Linked DNA regions of Homo sapiens: region 2 is linked to region 1. The links come from fine-mapping of genetic effects on gene expression. A gene starts in region 1. The other region holds a variant in brackets. All regions are shown on one strand. Distances are from middle to middle. Region 1 holds the start of FUBP3 (far upstream element binding protein 3). Region 2 overlaps FUBP3 (far upstream element binding protein 3).

What was found.
Region 2: its variant is fine-mapped to the expression of FUBP3 in tibial nerve (GTEx, PIP 0.96).

Annotation. Positions count from the first base shown.
Region 1 is chr9:130,567,049-130,582,717 of GRCh38, reverse strand. It overlaps FUBP3 (far upstream element binding protein 3), which reads right to left and starts at 3,141. Exons shown (of 19, transcript NM_003934.2): 1 at 2,954-3,141. The coding sequence starts at 3,037. LOC100272217 (a long non-coding RNA gene) reads left to right here and starts at 3,224. Exons shown (of 1, transcript NR_027440.1): 1 at 3,224-5,368. LOC124902286 (a long non-coding RNA gene) reads right to left here and starts at 2,878. Exons shown (of 2, transcript XR_007061818.1): 1 at 2,470-2,878; 2 at 632-2,059. RefSeq lists a silencer at 2,824-3,193.
Region 2 is chr9:130,631,214-130,646,882 of GRCh38, reverse strand. It overlaps FUBP3 (far upstream element binding protein 3), which reads right to left. Exons shown (of 19, transcript NM_003934.2): 14 at 15,253-15,326; 15 at 14,861-14,941; 16 at 14,605-14,681; 17 at 12,145-12,216; 18 at 10,757-10,884; 19 at 8,531-9,869. The coding sequence ends at 9,861. Among named protein-coding and RNA genes, the nearest start is that of MIR6856, 13 kb to the right of the region's middle. RefSeq lists enhancers at 8,036-8,631, 13,923-14,673. The variant A/G (reference allele first, on the strand shown) is at 12,249.

The DNA.
Region 1 (15,669 bases):
CCAGACTTGGATCTACTCATCCAGAGGTCCCCTTGTAACCTAGGCAGACAGTCAGTATAGAAGTGCAGAGGACGGCTGTGGAACAGGATGAACTACTCAGGATTTTGTCTTATCTGAACTAGTTGAAGAAACACTACTTCTGCTAACCAGCCAATGACTTGGGAAAAGTAGACAGATGTTTTTTAATATCCAGCAGTTTTTAGATCTTCATCCATGGAACTGAATGAGATCACATTTCTTTCTTTTTCTTTTTCTTTTTTTTTTTTTGAGACAGTGTCTCACTCTGTCACTCAGGCTGGAATGCAGCGGAGCAATCACAGCTCACTGCAGCCTTGATCTCCATGCTCAAGCTAGCCTCTTGCTTCAGCCTCCCAAACAGCTGAGACTGCAGGGGTGGGCCACCACATCCAGCTAATTTTTTTAATTTTTAGTAGAGACAAGGTCTCGCTATGTTGCCCAGGCTGGTATCAAACCCCTGAGCTCAAGCCATCCTCCTACCTCAGCCTCCCAAAGTGCTGAGATTACAAGCATGAGCCACTGTGACTTGCCCAGATCACATTTCTACTACCCTATAGAATGGATGTAAATTACCTGCTTGTGCCAAACATTAACTCACTAGACTTCACACTGCTGGAGAAAATGTTTACATTTTATTTGACATCTTCAGAGACTTCTTTTCAATCTAAGAATACCATGCTCAGAGTAAACTAACAACTGATGCACTTTGCTGCAGAGTCCAAAGGATATACACGGAGGCTTCAAGATGTCAGAGGGAAAGCCTAGTTGATAAGGTGTTGGACTTCACACACCAAACTTAATAGAAACTGCAGGTTCAAATCCCAGCAGGGTCAACTGAGAGTATTACGATCTGCTAGAAAAACTGAGCGTGAGACACTTTACTGCTCTTTGACAAATTTAAGAGGGCCTTCCAGACTGTCTCTGGAGTTTATGAGGAGACATAAAAGGGGAAAAAGCTTTGCGTTTAAATAAATATACTGTCTTTTAGTTCTGTTTAATGGGGAGAAAAATCACATCTCTGTAACATGCTGTGTATATAACAAAGAAACAGAACTATCACCTTCCAGATACCCAAATGAGATCCTTACAGTAAGTTTACCATCAGCATACAGTATTACAGATTTCTAACATTCCGTTCTTGCCCAATGCAAATCTATATACAATAAACCTAAAATTACCCACCAACCTGGTTTTTCTTTAGTTTTTAAAGGCCATCAAATCCTTGGAGATAGTATGGACCTCCAGCTGTTAACATTCAGAAGGAACACACTTACAGCCCTGTCTCCATTGGGCTTATTACTGCTCCAGTCAATGGTGCATTTCAGAGCTGAGAACAATTCCAATGAAGTTTTCACTGCTAGTAGTAAACACCACTGCTTCAACAATCCACATTAGGTCAGCATTTACCAGAGGGTCTCCCTCTGGAGCAGGTTGTCCAAGAATATGAGTTCAACCACTGGCTCAAGAGAAGCGGAATGTCTTCTCAATGGTTCAAAATTCACTTTATGTTCAACTACAGGCCTTCTGCAAACTGAGGATCTGAGCCCTTTAGGGCAGTGACTATAATTCTTCCCGGACATAGAAGGCCAACAAGGTGACTGTCACACATCAGCACAGAGCGAAAGCCATTACATATTAGTAGCCAGTGAGAAACAAGGTTCAGGACCCTGTACTGTAGAGGAGAGCACTGTAACACGCCAGCAAGCAGAGTGGTGGAAGGGGAGCTGGGTGGCATGTTCATCCATTACAGCCATGGGTGGATCTGAAGTCTAAGTAAGATGGATACTCACTACTGTACTGGTTGGCAGCTAGGCAGTAAAGTAACAATTCATCAGATAAAATTTTAGGTGGAACCACAGGTTTGGAAAGTTCTGGGATCCAATATAATGTCTATAGGAGCATCAATATATAACATGAAAAGTCAGTTATCAGGGAAACAGGTAGGGTTCCCTCCCCTGGAATACTGGAAAGAGATGTAAAGACCATATCTTCAAGCGCCCGAGTGAAGACCTTCTTCTAATACAATGACTCCTGTGGCTTTCTGTTAGGAATCAAGCAGTAATTAGTTATAGCCCAACTTTTAAAGTATCAGTGCGCTTACAATTACATAAGAAGAGAGGAGGACATAAGACACTTAACCGAGGAAGCTGAAGTGTTAGGGCTGACTTGTAAGTAAGTTTTAGATACAAATGAAGAACACGTTCTGTTCTAAGTACCATGCCAGAAGCCAGTAAGTATTTTTGGCAGGTCCCATATTCACTCTCTGGGGAAGCCTGGAGCCTTCTAAAACCCAGTTAATTTAACTTTGATTAAATGCACGACATTGTCAGACAGTAAAGTTTCAATGTCGGAATGAGGCCATATCATTCTCCCCAGTAGAGGCAAGCTTGCCATGAGAAATTTCTACATCTTGGGGACCACCCCCACACATGTAACACCTCCCTCTCTCACCTCTCCAAAGAGCACCCTCACATATAAGATGCCCTCGAGTTCCTTCTACTCAACAGAAAGTCTAAAGACGATGTTCCCCAAGTTTTAACAAGCTACTGGGCGTCAGACAGCTGCTTTATGTCTACACCCAGATCCTCCCCGTGGGCTTCCCGGACCCCTCCCCTCGCGAGGTTCAGAACCCCGCGCTAGCTACACTGTGGGTCCAGGCTGGCCGCTGGGGCACGATGGGGCCAGACGCTCTAAGCAAACCCTTTCCCAGCGACTTCAGGCACCTGGGAGACCCGCCCGACAGGCCGGGCCTGGGCCTCGCAGTGGCGCCTTATCCCCCCGGCTCCTCCCGGCTGTAGGAACTCCACGGAACGGCCCGGCCCGGCTGAGACGTCGGTTCAGGCTGCCTCCCGCCCCCCAGGCCCGAACCCCTCTTCCCCGCCCGCCAGGCCCCGCCTCGGGATCTCGTGCTCCTGCCAGCCGGCTGCGCCCGTACCTGCCGGACCCGGTGCAGGGCATCCACGAAGCCCTCGGCCTTCATCCCCACAGGAGCGCTCTGCCCCTGCACCAGCTCCGCCATTACCGCCCCCGCCGCCGTCGCCGCCGCCGCCGACGCCGCCGACGCCGCCGCTCGGCTCCCCGGTCCGGCCTCCCGCTCCGCTTGGGGACCCGTAGCCGGAAAAGGAAAGTCGCCCTACTTCCGGCGGAAGGGAAAGCCGGGACGCTCGCAGCTGGAGGAGTCGCGTCTGCGGGGCGGGGTCAGGGCACGTGACCTTCGACCGATCGGAAGTGGGGGCGGGACGGCAGCGCCGGGGTGGGCTCAGATCGCCAGGCAGCCGTGGGTCTCCAGGGTCCGGTCGCGACCCTTCCCTTCCCGGGCGGGATTTGGTCCAGGACCGTCGATGGCGTCTTGACAGGTCCCCGAGGCTTGGATGTGGTCCCGAGGTGTCCGCTGTCGGCCGTTTGGAATCTCAGAGGGACTGACGTGGCTCTCCCAAGACGGCACCCCGAACAGTCGTGGTTCATCAAAAGCCTGGTCCTGGGTAGCCCCTCCCTGAAATGGCTGTTGGTTGGGAATTTGGGGGCTGAGCGCTTTGAAAGGGCATTGGGACAGCATCACAGAATGTCAGTGTCCCACATTTGCGAGGAGTCCCGGGCCCCAGTTCTTACACTGCAGTTTGCATGAGGATGGGCCACCGCCACTTCCGCCTGGGGTTGTCTGGTGATGCCCCCAGGAGAGACGCGCCCACTGAAAAGCCAGCGTGGTGTCCTCTTACACGGTCCTTAACAAACTCTGGGACTCTGGGGGTGCAGGAAATACCACAGGACCGTCATTACTCCCATACCGGCTGAGTCACAACTGTATTGCAGGAGGCTTCTTGGAACGCCTATGTAACTTTAATGGAAGTGACCAGGTACAGATCTTCTACAGCAAGGAAGGAATCTTAGTGCTAGAATTCAGTTGAGCCTTTGAGTTGGCTCTTCTTATAAGTGAGCAAACAAGTAACAAGGTTTAGGGGGCGCCCATTTTTGTGTTAGCACGATTGCCCTCGTGTTTAATATTTCCCAAGCCCTATTATGATAAGGAGTTGGACTTAATGAAGAACCATGTTGTCAAACATCTTATGCCCATCTTGAAGTTGTGAAGGAGGATGAGCACCAAGAAAAGGAAATAAATAAAATCCAATACGGGCCGGGTGCGGTAGCTCACGCCTGTAATCTTAGCAGTTTGGGAGGCCAAGGCAGGCAGAACTCTTGAGCCCAGAAATTCAAGACCAGCCTAGGCAGCATAGTGAGACCCCGTCTCTACAAAAAATATAATTAGCTGGGCGTGGTGGCAAACACCTGTAGTCCCAGCTACTTGGGAGGCTGGAGTGGGAGGATCACCTGAGCCCTGGAGGTCAAGGCTGCAGTGAGCTATGATCACGCCACTGCAGTACAGCGTGGGTGACAGAGCAAGACCCTTTCTTGGGGAAAAAAGTCCCATATAACTTTCCTTGATGACCCCACCCTCACCCCTCACTGTGTCATTATGCCAAGAGAGCTTTGGGCATTCTAAAGAAGTATGAGGAATACTTGACCAATAACCAAAGTATAGTTATTTATTTGTTAATGACTTCTTTCCTAGACTGTGAGTTACTTTAGAGCAGAGACTTATTTTTCCCTGTATCCCTAGGGTGTGGCACATAGTAGGTGCTTAGTAAACTTATTTTGCATTCAATAATGCCAAGTAGAATAATTCATAGATTATGGCAAAATAAAAGAATTTGGCAAAATTGCAAGATTGAAGATTGCTTTCAGAAAAAATGTTCCAACCCCTGTTCAAAAGTACATAGCTTGCTGTGTTGTTGAAGTGCCAGCACGAGGAGGACCATGCCAACACATCCATTTATTGCCCATTCTGGGTGTGTTGAGCGTTTTAAGTTTGCTATGCTTGTAAAAATCAAGGAATGGCAATGGTATCAACTTTCATGAACACAGTCGTTCAGCTGAACCAAGTATCAGTGATAACTTCTGTTTTGAATTTTAGAAATATATCTCTGAGGTTAGAATGTTGATTCATGCATATTCCAGCTGGCTTTCCCTATGAGTATAAATAGGGAAAACAAGGCTATTGGCCCAAATGTAAGTTGTATTCCAAGGTTTGGTCCAAAGACCAGAGAATCCCTAAGTAGGAAGACAGTTTTGTTTTCCCCTCTTTTACTGGTTAACTTTGAGCAGGTCACTTATATTTGGGGGCACAGAAGATGAAGATGACCCTGAGCTTGTCATGTTCACTGTTAATTGTTCTACTAACACCCTAGACTTCATCATCTTGTTATAGCACTTATCACAGTTGCTTTTAAATCATCATGCAGTTATATGTTTATTGTCTGCCTTTTCCACTAGAATAAAGCCTCTGCTGACATAAGGTCTATGTTTGTCTTGTTAATTGCTCTCCCTACCACCTAGCACCAATGCCTGGCATTTGGTTGGCTCTCAGTATTTGTGAAATGAATGAATGAGATGATCTTGTCCAAAGAAGACAGGGAAAGATTCTTAGAGGTTAAAAAAGAAAAATTCGGCCGGGTGTGGTGGCTCACACCTGTAATCCCAGCACTTTGGGAGGCCGAGGCGGGCAGATTACCCGATGTCAGGAGTTCAAGACCAGCCTGACCAACATGGTGAAACCCCATCTCTACTAAAAATACAAAAAGTAGCAAGGCGTGTGGAGGGCACCTGTAATCCCAGCTACTTGGGAGGCTGAGACAGGAGAATCGCTTGAACCCAGGAGGCGGAGGTTGCAGTGAGCTGAGAATGTGCCATTGCACTCCAGCCTGGGCAAGAAGAGCAAAACCTTGTCTCGAAAAAAAAAAAAAAAAAAGCCGGGTGCAGTGGCTCACAGGCGGATCACCTGAGGTCAGGAGTTGAAGACCAGCCTGGTCAACATAGTGAAACCCTGTCTCTACAAAAAAATACACACACACAAAATTAGCCAGGCTTGGTAGCGGGTGCCTGTAATCCCAGCTACTCGGGAGGCTGAGGTGGGAGAATCACTTGAACCTGGGAGGTGGAGGTTGCAGTGAGCCGAGATCGTGCCACTGCACTCCAGCCTGGGCAACAGAGCAAGACTCAGTCTAAAAAAAAAAAAAAGAAAAGAAAAATCCACATACTGTGGTTGTGACTAGTTTTGCAAACCATTCCTATTGATAACATTGCAATGCCTCTAGATATTACCAACTAGAAGCCACGCTAAAATGAAACTGTATCAATGAGGAGAGTCTAGGTTATGCTACAGTAACAAGCCTTAAAACCTCAGTAGCTTACAACAATACAGGTTATTTCTCACTGGATACATGAACATGGTGTTGCCTCCACTACGTGTCCTGTTTACTCTTCAGCCAAGGCTGATAGCAGCCTCTGTCTGGAACATTAAACTTTATCAGGGCAGAGGAAGAAGCGAGTGACAAAGCACGAACTGGTTTTTAAAGCTTCTTCCTCAAATGCTAGGCACTACTTTTGTTCATGTTTTATTGGTTGAAGAATGTTTGCCTGTTGTCAATAAGATGCAGAAGTATGAAGCATACATTGGCTTTTAAAGCTTTTGCCTAGAAGTTGGTGGCATATGGCACTTCTGCTCACATTTAATTGGCCAAAGCAAGCCGTGGCCAAGCACTGATCAAGTGGCAGAGAAATATAGTCCATCTCCAGGGAGAAACAGCAAATATGTTTGAATAGTAACATGATTTTTCAAATACATCAAGAGAAAAAAATAAGCATGGAGAATGTTGTACAGTAGATTTTAAAGGATATAACATGGGTGGTTTCCAGAATTCGTTAACTACCCTAAAGACCCTCAGCATCTGGTCATTTGTAATTTGGGGAAGCTTTGCCTTGCCATCCCAAGATCTGCGTTGTTTATATCTCTGAGGCAGAAATAGCTTATAGCGATAAATCGTGAGTGAGAGAATTCTCCATTTAGAGATTTTCACAGGTCCCCAGAGCAGACCTTTTCCAATGTCAAGTGTCCACTGGAATTTCAAGTGCAGACTAAGGAGCATGTCAGCATGAAATCTGAAAATTTAAAAATAGAATTATTAAGACTCTCCAACACTGACTGAGGGATACAGGCATGCCTTGGAGCAATAGGAGTGATCCAATGATTGGAATAGTTCTCTTTGTCTTAGCATCTGAGAGTAAATTAGAATCTACCTTTAATAGGGAATGCATATGTATATGTATATATGTAATTGTCACTTAGTGATGGGACTATGTTCTGAGAAATGGATCATGATGTGAACATCTCAAAGCATACTTACACAAACCAAGATAGTATAGCCTACTACAACACCTAGGCTATATGGGGTAGGCTATTGCTCCTAGGTCACAAACCTGTACAGCATGGTACTATATGGACTACTGTAGGCAGTTGTAACACAGTGGTAGGTATTCATGTATCTAAACATAGAAAAGATACAGTAAAAATACAGTGTTATAATCTTTTTTTTTTTTTTTTTAGACCGAGTCTTGCTCTGTCTTCCAGGCTGGAGCGCAGTGGCATGATTGTGGCTCGCTGCAACCTCCACCTCCCGGCTTCAAGCAATTGTCTCTACCTCAGCCTCCCAGGTAGCTGGGATTACAGGCGCCCACCACCACACCCAGCTAATTTTTGTATTTGTAATACAGATGGGGTTTCGCCATGTTGGCCAGGCTAGTCTTGAACTCCTAACCTCAGGTGATCCACGCTCCTCAGCCTCCCAAAGTGCTGGGATTACAGGTGTGAGCCACCAAGCTCGGCCCAGTGTTATAATTTCATGGAACCACCGTCAAATATGCTGTCCATTGTTGACAGGAAAGTGACTGTATATCTCCCCGATTCCACCTTTGGCCTCGTACCACCCTGCTGGTACCATAGAGTAGTGCTACACTCTCAAGTAAGTTCAAAGAAACTTAGTAAATTTGGCTAGTAAATTTTTTGGTACCACACTTTTCCAAAACAATCTATTCGGCCTTCACACTTTAAAAAAAAACGTTATTTTTTAATAGAGACAGGGCCTTACTATGTTGCCCAGGCTGGTCTTGAACTCCTGGGCTCAGGCAATCCTTCTGTCTTGGCCTCCCAAAGTGCTGGGATTATAGGCATGAGCCAACTCAGCTGGCCCCTCAAAATTAATGATGTAGCTAGTTATAGAGCTCTGGATTGTAAATAATTCTCCTTTAGAAGACCGAAGGCATCTCTTATTGTCTTCTAGCATCTCATATACATATATACATATATATACATACATATATATACACATACATATATTTTTTTCTTTTTTTTTTTTTTTTTGATATTGAGTCTCACTCTGTCACCCAGGCTGGAGTGCAGTGGTGCAATCTTGGCACACTGCAACCTCCTCCTTCTGGGTTCAAATGATTCTACTACCTCAGCCTCCCAAGTAGCTAAGATTACAGGCATGCACCACGATGCATGGCTGATTTTTGTATTTTTAGTAGAGACGGGGTTTTGCCATGTTGGCCAGGCTGGTCTCCAACCCCTGACCTCAGATGATCCACCCACCTTAGCCTCCCAAAGTGCTAGGATTACAGGCATGAGCCACCTCGCCTGGCTCCAATATTTCTTTAAACAGTTTTATTGCTGGGCGTGGTGGCTCACGCCTGTAATCCCAGCACTTTGGGAGGCCAAGGAGGGAAGATCCCTTGAGCTCAGGAGTTTGAGACCAGCCTGGGCAACATCGTGAGACCCTGTCTCTAAAAAACAAAACAAAACAAACAGAAACAACAAAGTGCTTGTACCATTTTTCAGTTTTTTTCATTCTTGTAAGCAACATGTGAACATTCCAGTTTTCCAGTTTCTTTACCTACTTGACAACATTTGAGTCTGGTCAGCATTTTAAACTTTAGCCTTTTTTTTTTTTTTTTTTTTTGAGACGGGGTCTCGTTCTGTCACCCAGGCTGGAGTGCAGTGGCGCAATCTTGGCTCACTACAACCTCCGCCTCCTGGGTTCAAGCGATTCGTCTGCCTCAGCCTCCTGAGTAGCTAGGACTACAGGCGTGTGCCACCATGCCCGGCTAATTTTTGTATTTTTAGTAGAGACGAGGTTTCACCATGTTGGCCAGGCTGGTCCCGAACTCCTGACCTCGTGACCTGCCCACCTCGGCCTCCCAAAGTGCTGGGATTACAGGCGTGAGCTACCACGCCTGGCCAACTTTAGCCATTCTAATAGGTGTGTTGTAGCATCTCATTGTGGTTTGAAGTTCATTTATTTATTTATTATTTATTTATTTTTCCAAGACAGAGTTTCACTCTTGTTGCCAAGGCTGGAGTGCAATGGCAAAATCTCAGCTCACTGCAACCTCTGCATCCCAGGTTCGCACAGTTCTCCTACCTCGGCCTCCCAAGTAGCTGGGATTACAGGCACGTGCCACCACGCCTGGCTAATTTTGTGTGTGTGTGTATTTTTTTGTAGAGACAGGGTTTCACCAGGTTGATCAGGCTGATCTCGAACTCCTGACCTCAGGTGATCCACCTGCCTCGGCCTCCCAAAGTGCTTGGATTATAGGCGTGAGCCACCGCACCTGGCCTGAATTTGCATTTAATTAATAACTAATGAAGTTGAATATCTTTTTCTATGCTTATTTGCCATTTGATATTTTGTTTTGCTTTGGTTTCAGCAAACAACTCTGCTAATTTATTTGCCATTTGTAGATGTTCTCTGATGAACTGTCTGTTCAAAAGTTTTGCCCATTTTAGAAGTTGGGTTTTTAAAAAATTTGGGGACGTTGAAGGTTCTTTATATACTGTATACAAGTCTTTTATAAAATACATGATTTGCAAATATTTTCTTTCAGTCTGTGGCTTGTCTTTCTGTTATTTTGTCTTTTGAATAGAAGAAGTTCTTCATTTCAATGATGCCCAATTTATCAATGTTTTGTTCTATGGATTGTACTTTTGGTATCTTATCTAATAAGAGAACTGTCTAGCCTAAGGTCACAAAGATTTTCTCCTATGTTTTCTTCTAGAAGTTTTATAGTTTTAGGTTTTACATTTAGGCCTATGATCCATTTTGAGTTAAGTTTTGCATCAAGTGTGAGGTACGGGTCAAGATTCTTTGTTGTTGTTGTTGTTGTTTTGAGACAGGGTCTTGCTCTGTTGTCCAGGCTGGAGTGCAGTGGCACAAACATGGCTCACTGCAGCCTCAATCTCTGGGGCTCAAGCAATCCTCCCATCTCAGCCTACCCAGTAGCTGGGAGTACAGGCATGCACCACTACACCTGGCTATTTTTTTTTTTCTTTTTTTAGTAGAAATGAGGTCTCACCATCTTGCCCAGGCTGGTCTTGAACTCCTGAGTTCAAGCAGTCCTCCCGCCTCAGCCTCCCAAAGTGCTGGGATTACAGGCATGAGCCACCACACCTGGCTTCATTTTGTTATCATAAGGGTGTCTGATTGTTTCAGTACCAATTGTAAAAGGGACTATTCTTTCTTCATTGAATTGCCTTTGTACCTTCATTTAAAAAAAAAATGAATTAGCCACAAACGTGTAGGTCTATTTCTGGACTCTCTATACTGTTCCATTGACATATGTAGCTATCTTTTCCCCAACACCATACTGTCTTGATTACTGTAGCTTTACAGTAAATCTTAAAATCAGGTAGTGTAAGTCCTTCAACTTTGTTCTTCTTTTTCAAAATTGTTTTGGCTACTCAAGTTCCTTTGTCTTAGCAAATAAATTTTAGAATTATCTTGTTGATATCTTAAAAAAAAAAAAAATCTAGGCCGGGTGTGGTGGCTCACGCCTGTAATCCCAGCACTTTGGGAGGCTGAGGCAGGTGGATCACCTGAGGTCAGGGGTTCGAGACCAGCTTGGCCAACCAACATGGCGAAACTCCATCTCTACTAAAAATACAAAAATTAGCAGATCGTGGTGGGGTGAGCCTGTAATCCCAGCTACCTCGGACGCCGAGGCAGGAGAATCGCTTGAACCTGGGAGGCGGAGGTTGCAGTGAGCCGAGATCACACCACTGCACTCCAGCCTGGGCGACAGAGCGAGACTTGTTCTCTAAAATAAATAAATAAATAAATAAATATCTGTTGGGATTTTGATTGAAATCATGAATCTATAGATCAATTTGGAGAAAACTGACATCTTAACAATAGTGTGTCTTCCAATCTATTAACATTATATATCACTCTATTAATTTTGGTCTTTAATTTCTGGCCCAGTGTTTTATAGTTTTTAGTGTACAGATCCTGCACATATTTTGTTGGATTTATACCTAAATATTTCATGGCTTTTGGTGCTGTTGTAAATGATATGTTTTAACATTTTGATTTTCAATTATTTATTACTGATGTACAGAAATTAATTGTTTTGTTTTTGGTTTTGAGACAGAGTCTCGCTCTGTCACCCAGCCTGGAGTGCAGTAGTGCAAACACAGCTCACGATAGCCTCAACCTCCCCGGCTCAAGTAATCCTCCCATCTCAGCTTCCGGAGTGGCTGGGACTACAGCCCCATGTCACCATGCAATGGTTAGTTTTTTATTTTTTAGTAGAGACAGGGTCTCACTATATTGCCCATCAAACTCATGGGCTCAACCAATTATCCTGCTTGAGCCTCCTAAAATGCTGGATTATAGGCATGAGCCACCACACCCAGCCTAATTGCTTTTTAGATAGAACTTTTATCCCTAAAACTTGCTAAACTCACTTATTAGTTCTAGTAGCCTTTTTGGGTCGATTTCCTGAATTTTTTTCTTTTTTTGAGATGGAGTTTCGCTCTTGTCACCGAGGCTGGAGTGCAGTGGCGCCATCTTGGCTCACTGCAGCCTCCTGGGTTTAAGCGATTCTCCCGCCTCTGCTTGCCAAGTAGCTGGGATTACAGGCGCCTGCCACCACACCCAGCTAATTTTTGTATTTTTAGTAGAGATGGGGTTTCACCATGTTATCCAGGCTTGTCTCGAACTCCTGACCTCAAACCATCTGCCCGCCTCGGCCTCCCAAAGTGCTGGGATTACAGGAGTGAGCCACCTCACCCAGCCTTTTTTTTTTTTTTTGACACAGGTCTCACTGTCGCCCAGGCTGGAGTGCAGTGATGTGGACACAGCTCACTGCAGCCTTGGCATCCTGAGCTCAGGAAATCCCCCTCCCACCTCATCCTCCTGAGTAGCTGGAAGCACAGGTGCACGCCACCATGCTCAGCTAATTTTTTAAATTTCGGTAGCAATAAAGTCTCGCCATGTTTTCCAGCCTGGTCTCAAACTCCTGGGCTCAAGTGTCTTTCGCCTCGGCCTCCCAAAGTGCTAGGATTACAGGTGTGAGTCATCACGTCCGGCCTGCAAAGATTCTTGGCTTCTGCTCTGCTTTATGGCTACTCTGCCATCCAATTTGTGATTTGTGCCTTCTAGGATTGTTTTTTTTTTTTTTGAGATAGAGTCTCGCTCCGTTGCCCAGGCTGGAGTGAAGTCATGTGATCTCAGCTCACTGCACTCTCTGCCTCCCAGGTTCAAGGGATTCTCCAGCCTCAGCTTCCTGAGTAGCTGGGATTACAGGCACCTGCCACAGTTCCCGGCTAACTTTTGTACTTTCAGTAGAGACGGGGTTTCAACATGTTGGCCAGGCTGGTCTCGAACTCTCAACCTCAAGTGATCCACTCGCCTTGGTCTCTCAAAGTGCTGGGATTACAGGCATGAGCCACTGCACCCGGCATAGAAAATTTTTTTTTTTTTTTTTTGAGACGGAGTCTCGCTATGTCCCCCAGGCTGGAGTGCAGTAGCGCGATCTCTGCTCACTGCAAGCTCTGCCTCCCGGGTTCACGCCGTTATCCTGCCTCAGCCTCCCGAGTAGCTGGGACTACAGGCGCCCGCCACCACGCCTGGCTAATTTTTGGTATTTTTAGTAGAGATGGGGTTTCACCGTGTTAGCCAGGATGGTCTCGATCTCCTGACCTCGTGATCCACCTGCCTCGGCCTCCCAAAGTGCTGGGATTACAGGTGTGAGCCACCGCGCCCGGCCAGAAATTGTTTTTTAATAATGTTTTTTCATAGAGATGAGGGTCTTACCATGTTGCCTGGGCTGGTCTTGAATTCCTGAGCTCAAGTGATCCTCCTGCCTTGGCCTCCAAAAGTGCTGGGATTATAGGCGTGAGTCACGTATCTGTATTAGTACTTCTTGTCAGCTGTTGTTCTCCCTCCCATGCACTTTAATACTGTAGTTTTTTGTTTGTTTGTTTGTTTGAAATGGAGTCGCCCTGTGTCCCAGGCTGGAGTGCAGTGACCCAATCTCGGCTCGCAGCCTCTGCCTCCCTGGTTCAAGCAATTCTCCTGCCTCAGCCTCCCGAGTAGCTGGGATTATAGGTGTGTACCACCATGCCCAGCTAACTTTTGTATATTTTTAGTGGAGACAGGGTTTCACCACGTTGGCGAGGCTGGTTTCAAACTCCTGACCTCAAGTGATCTGCCTGCCTTGGCCTCCCAAAATGCTGGGATAAGAGGTGTGAGCCACCGTGCCTGGCTGATACTGTAGCTTTTAAACCTTTAATATTTTTACTTTCATTTTTAATATTTTGTTTTCCCCTCATCCTTGTGATTGCCTGGAGATACTTTCATTGTAATGAGGTCTTTACACAGAAGAGTTACTCACATATATTTAACTGGCTATTATAAATAGGATCAATTCTGACCATATGATATGGCCTGATTTTCTACCTTAGGCCTCTAGGTGGTCTCTCAAATCTACCCTCAAAAAGTCTGAGAACATTCATCTATACCTTTATTGCAGCAAGTAATGGTGGTGGCTGACAGGTGTCTCAGGCGGGGTTTTGCCTGTGAATACAAAGCTCACTGGCTTGTGGGAAAAACTCAGCCAAAGAAACCCTTGCAAGATTGGGTATATCCCCTTCAGATCGACCAGCCCCAGCTATTGTATTTTGGTTTTGTTTTGTGTATGATCTGGGAGACTTTTCACTTTGGATTGTGAGAAACTTGTTCAAGCATGACATTTGTCAAAAACTGGCTGCATATTAAATGCCACGAAGCATACAGAAATGATTACTAAATATTTCATGCAAAATATGTATTGATAGCCAGGTGTGGTGGTGCGCACCTGTAATCCCAGCTACTTGGGAGGCTGAGGTGGGAGGATCGCTTCAGCCCAGGAGGTGGAGGTTGCAGAGAGCCAAGATCACGCCACTGCACTCCAGCCTGGCCAACAGAGCCAGCCCCTTTTTCGAAACAAACAAACAAATAAACAAACACACACACACGTACTGAACACTTACTATGAGGCAGCCCCTGCTAGACTGGATGTTACAAGATGTCAGAGGTCATTTCTGGTGTGCTTAGCACAACAGTCTCCGTCCTGGTAGACATATATTAGATGCTTAGTGAATGTAGACAAAAACAAATCATGTGTGAATGAATTTACCACGTTCTGAGGCTAAAAAGATGAAAACAATGTCATGTTTTGAACATTTCTTCTCTTTGAGCTTCTGCTTGCGTGTTTATTCCATAATGCCTGCTTGCTAAATAGCTTGTACGTGCCAAACCCCACTATCTTAAATTACTACTCTCATTCTCTTGACTACCAGGCCCCTGGTGGAATCGTACAAAAAGTATCCTTCATTTTCCAGTTCCCAGACTTCATTCCTACCTAGATTTCCCCATTCAGAATTCCAGATGGGTCTGGGGACACATCAGGGTTGGATTATTCATTCTGGGAAGGCAGGAGGTCATCTGGCTTTCGGGGTTACAGTTTCTCATTTCCTGTATTAGATAGAAATCTTATGATCATCTGAAACAAAAATTATCGCTGATTGACAAAGGGATCAGGGCTGGGTGTGGTGGCTTGTGCCTGTAATCCCAGTACTTTGGGAGGGCAAGGCAGGTGGATCACCTGAGGTCAGGAGTTCAAGACCAGCCTGGCCAACATGGCGAAACCCCATCTCTACTTAAAAAAGAAAAAAAAATACAAAAATTAGCTGGACATGGTGGCGGGCGCCTGTAATCCCAGCTACTCGGGAGGCTGAGGCAGGAGAATCATTTGAATCTGGGAGGCAGAGGTTGCAGTGAGTCGAGATCACACCACTGCACTCGTGCCTGGATGACAGAGCGAGACTCTGTCTCGACGACAACAACAACAACAACAAAACAACAACCAGGGATTTGTCTCACACCAATGTTCATAGCGGCATTATTCACATTTGGTAAAATGTAGAAATAATTCAAATGTCCATCAACAGATGAACAGATAAATAAAATGTGGCATATAGATACAATGGAATGTTATTTGGCCTTAAGGAATGAAATTCTGATATACACATGCTATAACATGGGTGCATCTCGAAAACATTATGCTAAATAAATTAAGCCAGACACAATAGAACAAGTGTTGCATGATTCCACTTATACGAAGTACCTGGAGTAGTCCAATTCACAGTGACAGAAGGTAGAATAGAGGTTACCAGGGACTGGGAGGAGGGAGGAAATGGTAAGTCATTGTTTCATGGTAGAGAGTTCCTGTTTGTGATGATAAAAAATTCTGGAGATGGATGGTGGCGATGGTTGCATAACAATGCCAATGAATTGTACACTTAAAAATGGTTACAATGATAAATTTTATGTTGTTATGATGATGATTATTATTGAGATAGAGTCTTGCTCTGTTGACCAGGCTTCCTGGGTTCTAGCGATTCTCCTCCCTCAGCCTCCCGAGTAGCTGGGACTACAGGTG
Region 2 (15,669 bases), 64 kb before region 1:
TGAGGTCGGCAGTTTGAGACCAGCCTGGCCAACATGGAGAAACCCCGTCTCTACTAAAAATACAAAAATTAGCCAGGCGTGGTGGCACATGCCTGTAATCCCAGCTACTCGGGAGGCTGAGGCAGGATAAACACTTGAACCCGGGAGGCGGAGGTTGCAGTGAGCCAAGATGGCGCCACTGCACTCCAGCCTGGGCAACAAGAGCAAAACCTCGTCTAAAAAAGAAAGAAAGAAAGAAAGAAAGTGTGTGGCACTTCCTGCCTTGCTCTCTCTCTCCCGCTCTGCCACGCTAAGATGTGCCTGCTTCCCCTTTGCCTTCTGCCATGATTATAAATTTCCTGAGGCTTCCCAGTCGTGCCTCCTGTATAGCCTGCAGAACTGTGAGTCAATTAAACCTCTCTTCTTTGTAGATTACCCAGTCTCAGGTAGTTCTTCGTGGCAGTGTGAGAATAGACTAATATAGATTGATTAAATGTGGTGTAAATTACAGACCAGTGGTTTTCATGAATGTATATATAACAATCCTAATAAAAAAGTTAGTAAACCAAACCAATTATATATATAATATGTATATCTTATCAACTATATCTATCTACCTATCATCTATCTACCTATCATCTATCTATCATCTATCTATCTATCCATGTATCTATCAATAAAATAGATAATCCTTTACAACCATTATGAGGTTTATTCTAGGAATGCAAGGCTGGTTTAACATTTGAAAATCTATCAGTGTAATTCATTACATTGAAGCGAAAAAGGAGATAAATCATAGATGATCTCTACAGATGCAGAAGAAAGTACTGAAACAATTCATTACCTATTCATGACAAAACTCTTGGCAAACTAGAAACAGAAGAAAACCTCCTTATCAGATAAACTGTATGCCAAACATACACTCTGAGGCTACAAACAAGACCAGAATGACAACTCTCATGGCTTTCAATCAACAAGATACTGAAGGTCTTGGCCAGAGTAGTCAAGCAATACAAAGAACAAATGGCATAAGGATTGGGAAGAAAAAAATAACACCATCATTATTCATAAATGATCTGACTGTGAAAACAGGAAATTCAAAAGAATCTACAACATTGTTAGGTTGTCAGTTCTTCCCAAATTGATCTATAGATTCATTGCAATCCCAGTAAAAATCCCAGCAAATTTAAAATATTTTTATGGGGGTTGGGAGATCGACAAGCTGATTCTAAAATTTGTATAGAAATGCAAAGGGCTGGGAGTAGCCAAGACAATCTTGAAGAACAACAAAGCTGAAGGACTTACTGTAAAGGTACAATAATTAAGACAGTTTTGTTGGGAGGCCGAGATGGGCGGATCACAAGGTCAGGAGATCAAGACCATCCTGGCTAACACGGTGAAACCCGGTCTCTACTAAAAATACAAAAAATTAGCCGGGCGTGGTGGCGGGCGCCTGTAGTCCCAGCAACTCAGGAGGCTAAGGCAGAAGAATAGCATGAACCCGGGGGGCGGAGCTTGCAGTGAGTCGAGATCGTGCCACTGCACTCCAGCCTGGGCGACAGAGCGAGACTCCATCTCAAAAAAATAAAAATTAAAATAAATAAATAAATAAATAAATAAATAAATAAAAATAATAATAATACAGCTTTGGCCAGGCGCGGTGACTCAAGCTTGTAATCAAAGCACTTCGGGAGGCCGAGGTGGATGGATCACGAGGTCAGGAGTTCGAGACCAACCAGTTTGAGACCAACCTGGCCAACCCCGTCTCTACTAAAAATACAAAAATTAGCGCATAGTGGTGGGCGCCTGTAATTCCAGCTACTCAGGATGCTCAGGCAAGAGAATTGCTTGAACCTGGGAGGCAAAGGTTGCACTGAGCCGAGATCATGCCACAGTACTCCAGCCTGGATGACAGAGAGAGACTCCCTCTCAAAAAAAAAAAAAAAAAAAAAAAAGGAAGGGAAAAAGAAAGTGCAGCATATAATGTACTTGAGTGCATGGTGTTTTTAAAAAACATTATGGTTACAAATTGTTTTTAAAAATGTTTAAGGCTGAGTGCAATGGCTCACGCCTGTAATCCCAGCACTTTAGGAGGCTGAGGCAGGCAGATCACCTGAGGTCAGGAGTTCGAGACCAGCCTGGCCAACTCTGCTAAAAATACAAAAATTAGCCGACGTGGTGGCACACACCTGTAGTCCCAGCTACTCGAGAGGCTCAGGTAGGAGAATCGCTTGAACCTGGAAGGCGGAGGTTGCAGTGAGCCGAGATCACACCACTGCAATCCAGCCTGAGCAACAGAGTGAGACTCTGTCTCAAAAAAAAAAAAAAAAGTTTAAATGCATTTAATATTTAACGTGTTTTATCGAAATGTGAATTAAACAACCATGAAATCCTTGACACCAACCTACCATAATTTGGAAACCACTTGTGTGGTCCAATTCCAAGGAAAGAAAACAGATCAAGAGAGCTGATCTATCCAAGTCACAGAAAGTCATCTGTCCAAGTTGGGAACAAAAGTGAGGCCTGTGGGTTCCCTTTGCCTGAAGGAAATTGTTGATCGTTCTCTCCCCTTGACTGAAGAAGTGGAGTTAGGGAAGAACCTTTCTTTTCTTTTCTTTCTTTTTTTTTTTTTGAGACGGAGTTTTGCTCTGTTGGCTGGAGTGCAGTGGCGCGATCCTGCTCACTGCAAGCTCTGCCTCCCAGGTTCACGCCATTCTCCTGCTTCAGCCTCCCAGTAGCTGGGACTACAGGCGCCTGCCACCATGCTCGGCTGATTTTTCATATTTTTAGTAGAGACGGGGCTTCACCATATTAGCCAGGATGGTCTCCAACTCCTGACCTCGTGATCCACCCGCCTCGGCCTACCAAAGTGCTGGGATTACAGGCATGAGCCACCGCGCCCGGCTTTTTTTTTTTTTTTTTTTTTGAGACGGAGTCTAGCTCTGTCACCCAGGCTGGAGTGCAGTGGTGCGATCTCGGCTCACTGCAGCCTCTGCCTCCTGGATTCAAGTGACTCTTTTGCCCAGACTCTCTCTAGTAGCTGGGATTACAGGTGCCTGCCACCATACCCTGCCCATTTTTTGTACTTTTGGTAGAGACAGGGTTTCACTATGTTGACCAGGCTGGTCTCAAACTCCTGACCTTGGGTAATCCACCCACCTTGGCCTCCCAAAGTGCTGGGATTACAGGCAAGAGCCACTGCACCCGGCTTTTTTTGGCTTGTTTGTTGAGACAGGGTCTTGCTCTGTCACCCAGGCTGGAGTGCAGTGGCATGATTACAGCTTACTGCAGCCTCGACTTCCTGGACTCAAGGGATCCTCTCACCTTGGCCTCCCAAGTAGTTGGGACTACAGGCATGCGCCATCATGCCTGGCTAATTAGAATTTTTTTTTTTTTTTTGTAGAGGTGGGGTCTCACTCCGTTGCCCAGGCTGGCCTCAAACTCCTGGCTCAAGCGATCCTCCCGCCTCGGTCTCCCAAAGTGCTGAGATTACAGATGTGAGCCACTGCACCAGGCCGGTTGCCAGTTTTTGAGTGCCCATTAAGAACCAGGTGTGAAGCGCTTTACTTGTGTGCCATTGACTCCTATCATAGCCCCACAGGCGGGCAGGTGGCTGCTAGCCCCACACTTAGGATACCAGAGGTTAGGTCATATGAGGTGCAGGCAGGACTCAGACCCAAGTTTAAGTGTCCACACATTCATGCCTCACACCCTGCTGCCTTAGGTAGGCTGAACTCGCCAGGCCCCACTAGAACCACGTGAGGCATTCCTTGCACATGTGCCTGGCTCTGCTCGTGTGTGGGTGTGGCAAGGCAGGCCGGTATCGCAGCCAGGCTAAGGTTTGAGGAGGCCTCAGCAAGAGTGTAGCTCTCCACTGAAACCCCAGCAGAGTGGAGCACGAACTTGCCATGGAACTGGCCCCTCCGTGCCTGTGTGAGTAAGGACAGTTTCCAGCCTCTCTGAGCCCTCATCTGTAAAATGGGGAGCATAGTCCTGGTTACCTCTCAGGTCACATGTGCACAACCATGGTATGACTCTGATCAGAACCTATTTAAACCTGTTTCCTTGGCCGAGCGCGGTGGCTCACGCCTGTAATCCCCGCACTTTGGGAGGCCGAGGCGGGTGGATCATGAGGTCAGGAGTTCGAGACCAGCCTGGCCAACATGGTGAAACCCTGTCTCTACTAAAAATACAAAAATTAGCTGGGTGTGGTGGCGGGCACCTGTAATCCCAGCTACTCAGGAGGCTGAGGCAGGAGAATTGCTTGAACCCGGGAGGCGGAGGCTGCAGTGAGCCGAGATCATGTCACTGCAGTCCAGCCTGGGTGACAGAGCAAGACTCCATCTCAGAAAAAACAAACAGACAAGCAAAACCCTATTTCCTCATCTCCAAAATGGGATAAGAGTCGGATTTTCCTTATAGGAAAGTAAGAGCCAGTGGATTCTAGTTGTTCATGGTAGTGATATATAAAGTCTCTGCAAATACTGAATCATCAAATACTAAACCCTTGTTCCTAAGGGAAATACAAGGCAAGGTTCCTGCAAGCCAGTGTCCACACCAATCTATAGATAATCTTTTTTATTTTATTTTGTTTTATTTTATTATTATTATTATTATTTTTTCAGACGGAATCTCGCTCTGTTGCCCAGGCTGGAGTGCAGTGGTGCAGTCTCGGCTCACTGCAACCTCTGTCTCCCAGGTTCAAGCAATTCTCCTGCCTCAGCCTCCCGAGTAGCTGGGATTACAGGCGTGCACCACCATACCCAGCTAATTTTTGTCTTTTTAGTAGAGACGGGATTTCACCATGTTGGCCAGGCTGGTCTCGAATTCCTGATCTCAGACAACCTGCCCACCTCGGTCTCCCAAAGTGCTGGATTACAGGCATGAGCCACTGCGCCCAGCCCCTTTTTTATTTTTTTAAGAGATGGGGTCTTGCTGTGTTGCTCAGGCTGGAATGCAGTGGCTATTCCCAGGCACGGACATAGCTCACTGCAGCCTCGAACTCCTGGGCTCAAGTGATCCTCCTCCCTCAGCCTCCCTAGTAGCTGGAACTACAGGCATGCATCAGCACTCCATAATCTTGTTTTATGTGTGTTTCTGTTTAAAGACCCCTCATTGGCCGGGCACGGTGGCTCACGCCTGTAATCCCAGCTGTTTGGGAGGCCCAGATGGGTGGATCATTTGAGGTCAGGAGTTTGAAACCAGTCTGACCACGCTGAAACCCCATCTCTACTAAAAATACAAAGAAATTAGCTAGGCATGTTGGTGGGCGCCTGTAATCCCAGCTACTCGGGAGTCTGAGGCAGGAGAATTGCTTGAACCTGGGAGGCGGAGGTTACAGTCAGCCGAGATCGTGCCACTGCACTCCAGCCTGGGTGACAGAGCAAGACTCCATCTCAACAAATAAATAAACAAAAATAAAAAATAAATAAAAATAAATACTCCTTACTTAATATGTATATTGTTCACCTATTAACATTGAACTCGTGGCCAACAGCCGTGTAACTCAGGCCTGCAAGAGGCAGAACGCATATATTGTCTCCATCAGCTACACCTCAGCCTTCCTATGCTTAGGAATGCTAGATGGCCCTTTAGTGCCATGCTTGGGGGCCACTTTAGACAGTAAAACTGTCAAAAAAGAAAAAAAAAAGGCACAAAATGCAAAAACTGTGGCACTAAGTAGACTGCAAGGAAAAGTGCTTATTTATGACACGAGAGCTGAAACCAGAAGGCAGAGCGCCGCCTTTTCCACCTCAGCTGGGAACACGTGCATCCGGTAACTCACGTTTTTCACCGTGAATGACCCGCAGATGCTCTGTGGGGGTAGATTTGGGGGTTGCAAATACGTTTCAGTGAGTAGGTGAATTTGCAAATACGGAATTGAAAATGATGAATGACTGTAGTGCACTTCCAGGGCTGGCCAAGTTGGTACTCAACCCTAACTTTCAAGATCTTCTCCCATCCTGCCAACCATCTCCCTTGGTGGTGACTACAAAAGACAGTGCGCCCCCAGGAGGCGGTGGTCACGCTCTCCTCTGAAGCCCCAGACGGAGTGCAGCATAGAACCTGGCACAGAACTGGCCCCTCCATGCCCGTGTGAATAAAGGCAGGTCTCAGCCTTTGACTCTGAGCCCTCTTCTGTGAAATGGGGAGATTAGGCCTTTCTACCTCCCAGGGTGCAGAGACCACCTTGGAAGCAGGTACCTGGAAAGGGCCAGGACCCCCTTGGTAGATGCTACAGAAACACCTTCAAGACAAAGGACAGCCAAGATGACCATTGTTTCAAGGGCAGTGAGGGTTGTCTTTGCTTCCCCTTCCACCCTACCCAAGACACAGACCCAGGGCCTGCAGCCCCCTGCGGAATTGAGTGTCAAGCCACTTTCTGGCCATTAATCTCTAAGCATCTATCAGGCCCATTTGCTTCAGCCCATCTTAAAAAACCCCAGCTGGGCCCTAGTGGACCAGAAGTGGGGCTGGGAGAGAGTGGGGCTGTAGCCAGCTAGAAGCTGCGGCTCTGGGGTGACCCACGTTCTCATGGACCAGGCACTGCACTGTGCCATCTGTGCCCCAGCCGACCCTACCTTGGGGGCTCTGGGACATCATGGGTGGTCACCACTGTCGAGTGACCCTGGAAAGATGGTGCCTCCTATCTGATGGGAGGCCAGGGGTACTGATTGAGGCCCGCTGGCTGAGAACTCCTCAACCCCAGCCCAAACTTCTGGGTGGGGCTGGGATCGGCTCAGCAGGGTCCTTGATGGATCCTGAACTTGGGAGGCTGGCAGAGACCCAGTAGGCATGGGCGGTGGCGGGTGGGGGTGGGGCATGCATTCAGAAGACAGACTGGGCAAGCGCCCGCCCCGCCTCCCGGACCCCGACCGCCCTTACAGTGATGACCATGCATCTTTCTTAATGGAACACAACCGCTGAACTTGGTACATTTCAAGCACTTTAGCCTCCAGTACACCAGACTGCTGATGAAAATCATCTTCCTTGGGCGCCATGTTAATGAGAGGCCAAATTTCATATGCTTGCAAACTTTCCCCCCCCGCCTCCTGTCGTACCACACCCCCTCCCCCCAATAAAAGATTGCATCAGAGAGAAAGAGAGATTTCCATAATTTATAGTATGGGCATTTCACTGGGGACAAGCGCTAATCTGTACTTACCGATACATTTAAGAAAATGCATCCTCCGCAAGCCTGCGCCATTTATGACTCTTGGCACAAACCACAATGCTCAGTCTTCAATTAAGGGACACCTTAGGGTTCATTATCACACAATCGCTCCCTGTGAACCATGCCAAATGCTGTTTTGGCACAGAGCTTGGAAGATGAATTAGAAGGAAGTCTTCTCTGTAATGCCCTCTCCCGAATTCCCATTACCGTCATCAGCGTTTACGCCCTCCTCCCACTCGGCCCCCTCCCCCCACTTTCCAAGTGCCTTTTACTATTCAATTTCTCAACGTCAAACTCGATTCTCTAGAGGTGCAGTTAAAAATGCCACATCTCCTTTTTGTCTTCCGGCTCTCAACAGGCCTGCCATGGCCGCAGATGGGCTGCTCTCCACACCCCTTTTCGGCCTGAAGGAGCCACAGCTGCTTTTTTCCCCTCCTGTCAGAAGCTTGGAGTACAGACAAGGGGCCGGTATTGGCCAGGCACAGCCCAGCAAGCCCCGTTCAGGATGGAAACAGGTCTCTATATCTAAGTAGAGACCCGCACAGAAAGCCTGAGGGCGAAGGCAGGGCCCCTCAGACGTGAAAGCAGACACTGCTCAATGCCAGTCACCCCAACCAACGGGACAGAAGGAAAAAAAAAGGCGAGGGCTGATGCTATTACTTAATGCCCTTCCAAGTCTGAGGCCCACACTGTCGCCACGAGTCCTAAGACCACAGGACTGTAACTTAACACCTCTGGGGAAGGACGCCCCATTTGTTTCTTCATGAAAGGACAGGACATAACGAGCACGTGTGCTGATGCTTCCCAGCCCTCCTGGCGATCTGGTGTCCCACCGTGGGCACGGGGCTAAGAGCGAGAAAGCACCACCACCACAGCCACAGGTGAGGCTGGGGACAAGGAGGTGGGGGATGCAGGCAGCAACAGTCAGGGAAGCACACCGCGCCTAGGGCAGCCCACCTACATTTGCAGGCGAATGTGTGTGCATGGGCACGCAGGGAAGGGGAGCGGGCGGAGGGCAAGGGGCTGCCCAGTCAGTCGCAGAAGTCTGCTGACCCGCCGCACGCCCTTCAATGCATCTCCCAGCTCCATCCGATGACACTCCCATACTGACTTCTCACTTACAGATGCCTGACTGTGACAGGGAAGGGGAGCTGAGCCCAACCACGGCTCTCAAGTCAAGCTGTCAAATCATACAGAGCCATTAACATAAAATTAGCTTAACGAACTAGCTAGACATCTAGACTGTGCACCAACGAAGGCGGGTGGACGCGGTGCAAGATGACGGGCGAGGCCCGCAGGAATCCTCTTTCCCTCTCGGGCGGCCGCGGGCAGGGGCAGAGGGATGAACCGGCGAATGGAAAGCAAACAGGCCAGAAAGACTTTGCCCACAAGATGCCTTGTGGAGATTTTATTATATAGAGTGTAAAATGAATTGTCAGTCAAATAAAAAGAACACTTTGTTTTCTTAAAAACCCCATGCATAACATTTTCCAATTGTCTTTTTTAATAGTTAGACATTTCAAGCATTATAAGAAAAATAAGGAGAAAAAACCAGAAACTGTAACTTCAGTACATTTCAAACGGAATGTCCCTCAGGTCAATTAGAAATGCAAGAAAAAATAGCTTCAATTCCGTTTTTTTTCCTTTAAAAATACATGTTATCTGTACAAGATACACTACAGTAAACACTGGAAATCATATTATCCCTTTCATTAAATCAAAATTATTTAATTCATAATGCGGTTAATACTAGATTTATTTATTCATCTAGTTAATCTGACAAAATATTAAGAAAATATTTAAAAGAAAAAAGCAAACAACACCTTGGAATTAAAAATAGTTATAACTACATTTTTATACGGTTTAATGTTCCACAGTGTGTGTTAAAAGTTATATTGAATTTCTTAATATTAAAAATAACAGTATTTATATTTCTGAGATAATAGAGAAAGGTTTTTTGTTTTGTTTTAAAAACAAGCTTGGAGGTCTTAGATACACAATTGCAACTGGTAATGGAGGCATGAGAAAAACGTAGGCTAAACACACGAGCACATTTTTATATTACCCCTTTCGAACTCTAGAAATTATACAAACCCTACAAAATGCCCCTCCCAACCCCTGTTGGACAGCAATACAATTATCTGTCTCAGTTCAGAATTCACATCATTCATTACAATACATAATAGTTCAGTTTTTTTAAAAATGCAATAAAACCAGACAGCCAAGATACAAGAAATTAGAAGTAAAACATTAAATGAATTTACACATTTAAGAATACTTAAATACTGCTTTAAAATTTTTAAAAAGAATTTGTTACATACCACCTAAGACTTCCAAGCCACTTTCTGTTGCAACAGAAAAAACTGCAAATAAAAAGGACACAAAACCAAACCAAACCAAAACCATCATGTTGAAATGTCACAGCTCTGAGGCACATTCTGGTGCCTGACTTTGTAGGTATTGCTCCAAAAAGAATCCCAGAGCTTATACATTTGAAATAACAAAAATAATGAAACAAAAATGATCAGCAATTTTTAGTAACTAATTTTCCTGATTTTTAGAAAAATTCCGTTAATCTAAATATAGTGTTTCACAGAACAAAACAACAGTTCTTCATCAAAAGGTTTGCAAATGTAAAAACCTCTGTTACAAATAGGTTTTCTTTGACAATGATTTTGAGGGGAGAGTTGGCCACGAGGACGCTGTCCTACTGCTCCTGTGGGCGGAAGGGAAGAGGAATTAGTCTGTGATGGCAGGTTCTCAGGTCTGTGTGCCAGTGACCTCCCCCAGGTCTCGCGTCACGGGAGCTGGGCCAGACAAAACCTCTGCTGAAGAGGTCTTGGGCTTCTCTCTCCACTAGGGACTTGGGGCAGGGAAGAGCGGACAGTGGGAGCCACGCTTCTCCTCCATCACCACCAGCCCTGACACCTGTTTCCCCAGGACCAGACCCAGACGGCCAATTTGGCAGTGAGAGGCCCAACCAGCTGAGTCCAGGGCCAGGAGGTAACTGAAATGTTATCCATGAGGACCTGACTGGCATCAGGTGGGAAATGCGCCCTGTGGGAACATTTGGACGTCTTCCCTTCTTTAATAAGAAATCCGTTTTTGGCCTCTGAACAGAACCCTCTAGGTTGTGCACAGGAGAGGAAAGCTGGGCTCTGCCCCCCTGCCCTCTCACTGCTTCCTGCTGCTGCCCGGGCATGGCTGACGGCCTGGCCACTCCACCCTCCTCGAGAGCAGTCGCCGGAGCGCACCCTCTGCACTTGCTCCTTTACGGTTAGGGAAACTGAGGCTTAGAGGAAGAGAGAGACTACTAATCAGCCCTGAGGTCTGGGGCCTGGACTTGAGGAAAGTTCAGGCACTTCCTTGTAGGGGCTGCGCCCCCAATCCTCCCACTTGGCCTAAACTCTTTTTCTCCAGAGCGAGGAGGGACAGAGGGGCTGGAGCCGGGCTCTCAGCAGAAGCAGCCTCGCTGAGGAGCTATGGCGCCCAGAGGTTCCTCCTAGCCCAGCGCTCTCATCCTGGGGTCAGGAAACACAGAAGGCTTGGGAGCAGGGGCTCGGGGCTAGGGAGTGGCAGCGGTGCTGGTGATCAGCTACAGACCTGGCTGTGGGCCTGCGCCTGCCCTAACGTCTGTCCGTAGAAAGCGACCTGCTGTCTGTAATATTCTGCCCAGGCCATTGTGTAGTCCGGTGGGGAGCTGGCCTGAGGAGCAGCGCTGGCGGCGTGACCTGGTTGACAAAGGAGGAAACACAGGTTATCGGGAGCGGAGGTGCACTGGGCAGGACCCTTCCCAAAGGCCCTGGGCATCTGCTCTCCCTCCGGACGGCTGGAAGGCAGGGAGGTCTGGGAGGCAGTGAGGTGAGGCTGGTGTTGCAGGAGCGCTTGCTACAAAAGGTGCTGTTAGCCTCTTGTTGCCCGGCCCCTGCTATGCCTGTGAAGACCAATCCTCACGCCTGCCTTCTCTCTGCGGAAGCGCATTCTCTGCATCTCCCTGCCTGCCCCTTCAGCTCCCAGGGCCCTGTGACAGACAGAGAAGGGGGGATCCTGGGGTGGGGGTGGGGGAGAAGGGGAGTACCTAACTTGGGTGCCTGTGATAGTGTCCAAATCCTGTGAACAGCTTCAACACAGGCCCAGGGGTCTGGGAATTGGGATTTGGGGAAGACTGGGCAGCTGAGCTTACAGCACTCTGGTGACCATGACTCAACACCCCCACCTCCAACCCCTAGAAGGGCCATGAACCTGGCGATGATGCCAACACCAGGGGGACCACTTCTCTGGTAGCCTTCAACCCGATCTCTTCCAACCAGCAAGAAACATCCTCCAAACACAAGGCACGTGAGATACCTCTTTAAACAAGCCCTCAGTCCTCCGGTCTAGTAATCGTGGGATATATCCCGAGAGTCTGGTCCTGATTTTATGTGACTCCCCAGAGACCTTTTGCTTGTTGGGTCCCTCGCCCTGCTCTGAAGGCTGGTTTCATTTCTGGTAGTTAGAAAACGGGCCTACTTAAGAAGAGAAACTAAGCACCCAGCTCCAATGCCCAGGTAAGGCCTCCTTCCCTGAATCTCACCACCTCTCCTCATCTGCCCTGAAGCACCAAGACAGAGAACAAGATGTCTGGTTGGTCTGTTTGCCGGCCAGGTGGCACCCAGCCGGAATCTTTCAGTCCCTAAGGAGACCAGACGCCAGCTGAGCCCACACTTCCAGGTGCCACGCCCACCTCAAGTCCTTTGGAGCCCAGCACGGGGAGAATAAAGAGGAGGGGATGTGCCGAGTCGCAGGGCAGCCTGTGGTCACTGACTGACTATGCCCAGACTCCTGACAGAAAGAAGCAGGCAGGTACAGGGTGGAGGACGAAGGCAAATAATGAGATCAAGCCACACAGGGAAGGCATTAGGGAAAAAAGAGGTGACAGTGAGCCTTGGACTCTGAAGTCTCTGGGCTGGAGGGGACTGTGCTGCCACAGGTTAGGAGGGCCGGGCACTCACTCTGTTTTTTGTAATAGTCTTCCCAGGCCTTGCTGTAGTTGGGCTGGCTGCTCTGCGGCTGGCTCTGCTGGCCTGTGCGAAGAACACAAAAGCAGTCAGGCCTT[A/G]CGGGCTCCTCACAGCCTCGGCCCCAGCCCGCCAGCTGCAGGCCCTGCCCTGCACTCCTCCACCTCGCTCCTGGCCACACACGGCTCCGCAGCCCTGCCTGGGAAGGAGGTGGCAGCTGGCAGGGCTGGGGGAAGGGGTGTAACTAAGATCACTGTAAGGGTGGGGCTGGGCACACGAGGCAACTAGCAAGGCTAGCCTGACCCTCTTCAGATGGAGACGCAAGCTTGACGGCCACAGCCACTGCTGTTCTGAGGCTCCCCAATCAGCCTTCCAAAGGACAAAGACTCCAGAGGCTGCTGACCACTCTCTTCGCGTGGCCCTCTGTTCAAGGCCTGGGGGCTGTGCCTCTGGACCAAGGGAAGTGGAGGGGCCATGTGGAGCAGGGGTAGGCAGCACCAGTGGGCTCCTGGACCCTGTCCAGCCTCAGGCCAGCTGGGGTAGGGCAGAGGGAAAGGGGGTGCATGTGTTTGGGTGGTCCAGCCCTTCTCTTCTGTGCAGGACCCTGGGTTCACCCTCTAGGCTATGTGGGCAGTGAAGACTGGGGGACGCGGAGAAACAGCCAGCATGGGGGAACAGAGCCTCAGCACCCTGCCAGGCACAAGAGGGGGTTCAAAGACTTGACCACAGTGGCGGGTCAGGACCTCTCCTTCTGCCCAGGCCGGGGCTGGCTCAGGTGTCCACCTGCCAAGGCCCACAAAAGACCCCCTCACTGTCTCGTCTCCTGTAAGGATTGTAGCCTGAAGCAGGGAGGAAGGGCAAACCACTGCAGAGAGCATGCAGCCAAATGCTTTCTCCACTAGTTCACTTTACTGCATACTGAGGAGCAGCGTGGGGAAGAAGCAAGCAGCGGGAGGAAGGAGGGAAGGAGACGCCCCGCTTCCTCCCACAGGGGCAGGGCGAAAGAGGGACACAGGCAGCAAACACTCTTCCCTCGGACGCGGAGGGCGCCGGCAAGCAGGACTTCGCCGCCAAACAGTATTTCACCAACCCAAACCGGTTCTCCACTGCAAAACCCCTGAATAAACAAAAAAAGCCAAGCTCCACAACATGAGATGAAGGCTGCCCAATGGCGGCAAGACCACCGGGTGCCTCCTGCACTCTCCCTTCCTCAGCCCACAGGCCTCTGCCCGTTCCACCCGCCAGGGGGCCGTTTCCCCTGAAGGCCTCCCAGGCCTCAGTGTCCCCAGAGTCAATCCTGGCCACCTTGCTGCCTGGAGGATTATCTCAGACTAGAACAGCAGGTGAGGAGCCGAGGAAAGGAAACAGGGTTAGCCCCTATGGCCAAGCGAGCAGAGGGAAAGGGGATGGATGGTGGGATCTGGGTGCCTTGTGGGTGCTCACTGCAGAGTGTTCTAAGATATTTGAAACGTTTCATAATAAGATACTGGGGAAAAAAAGGGAAGAAACACAACTATACAATTTCAGAGCATGCAAGTACTTTAGAATTCAAACCCAAACCCTTGATTTTACATGTGGCAAAGTGGAGCTCCAGAGAAGGCAGGGCGTGCCTAAGGCCACACAGCACTGGCCTCAGGACTCTGTGTAAGGCTGAAGTGGCAGAACCCCAGAAAGGGGGCTCAGGCCCTCCGAGCCAGGCTGTGAGGCGGGGCCTGCGGCCTGGGTGCTGTGGGAATCTGCAGACACTGAAGAAGCCTTTCTAAACACAGGACAGAAACTCCAGATGGGTCAAAAGAACGTGGATCGTACTAAGGTAAGGGTTCTGCTTTGCTTTGTGAAGGCCATGCCAGAGGGGCTAGACCAGCTCTGAAACCCAACAGTGGTTCCTGAAGCGTCTGTGGGGACAGAGAGGGTGGCGGCTTTGATTCCCACCAGGACTTTCTCCTTCACAACCAGCCTCCCTGGAGAGGCGGGATGCAGAAGAAGTCATTCCCTAGCTGTTTGCTTCTGAAAAGTTCAGGAGATGGAAGCCTGAGAGGGGAGAGGAAGGCAGCCACCCAAGGCAGGGGCAGGGAGTTGGAGGGCCAGGAACCAGCCCCTCAAGGGGTGGAGAAGAGGAGGAGCAGAAGCTGGCTCAACCCATCCCCACCCATGCATAGGGAACGAAAGTGACAGAGGCCCAGAACTCTGAGGACAGGTGGGCCAAGAGAGGGCCAGCCCAGAGTCCCCAGCCCGCCTGAGGTTTGTGCAGTTTCCCTTGGGGCCTTTTTCTGAGCATGCACAACCCCTGGTACAGGCCTGCAGGAGGGCCCAAGCCCCACCCAGAGGGCTCCTTGTCATTTGGGGAGGGGCATCCTGGGCCTGCTGGCTGAGTTGAACGAGGGCGTTTTGGCCCCAGGACTTCTGTGGGCCGCAACCTTTCTGGAGGGCATGCACTCCCCGCCCCGAGTCACTTACTTGGGACCTGCTGTGTGGGCTGCTGCCACGCCTGGTAGGTGCTGCCCCAGCCCTGGGTCAGAAAGGCCGGAGGACCACTGTGGATAACAAGAGGGTCACTCGTTCCTATAGGGGGCAAGTCACCCCTGTCGTCTCCCTCTTCACTGCTCACCTCCCTCACCCCAGCCAAGCATCACCGGACCCTTGCCTGTCGGCAATAGCCAAGTGACCACCTTAGTGCCGTCTGTCCCCAACTGAGTCACAGCAGGTCACCTACCTCACAGGGGTGCTGTGGGGGTTCCCATTCACCTTGGCAGCCATGTTTGGGAAGCACCCGGAGCTCCTTGGAGGAAAGGTACTGGGAAAAGGTAAAAGAAACAACAGACTGAGCGCCTCACAACAGAGGGCTCGTCCCCTCCCCGCAGCCCCAGGGCACTGAGGGGGCAGTCGGGACAGAAGACCCTCTGCCCTCTGAGAGGCTCCCACCCCATCGCTGAGGTCAGTGAGTGATAGGCCGGAGGGACCGCTGGTGAGAGGAAAAGAAACGAGTCCTGCCCACGCCCAGAACTTCAGGCCTTGGCTGGCACTCGCTAGAAGTAGCTGGAAACGACAGGGGATCTCTGGGGAGCGAGTGAATTCTCCCAGGCAAGACTGATGCAAAAGACTCACTTTTGATGAGGTGGGGCAGGTGGCTGGCTGAATGGACTCTGTCCGAAGGCTCCAGGTGCTCCGAGATTGGTCCCCTGTGGGGGCACAGAGGGAGCTCTCACCCGCTGTTGGTTGCACACCTCTTTCCTCTGCCCAGGCCCACCCCGAGGCAAAGCCCAGCTTTTGGGGAGATGGAGTCGAGTGAAGTAAGGACACCTACGCACTCACACTAGCCTTCCTTCCCACAGCAGGCTGCGCTGCAGAAATGGCTTCTGCCCTCCAGCGACCAATACCACCACACAGCCAGTCCTGGCACCACCACAACTGCCCTGGCATCACCCTGGGGGTAGGGACCAACCTGCTTGACTCTCCCGTCAACTTAGGCTGGCCCAAGGCTCTTTCTGCCATTCTACGTCCCCATTGAGGTGAGCAGTGGCC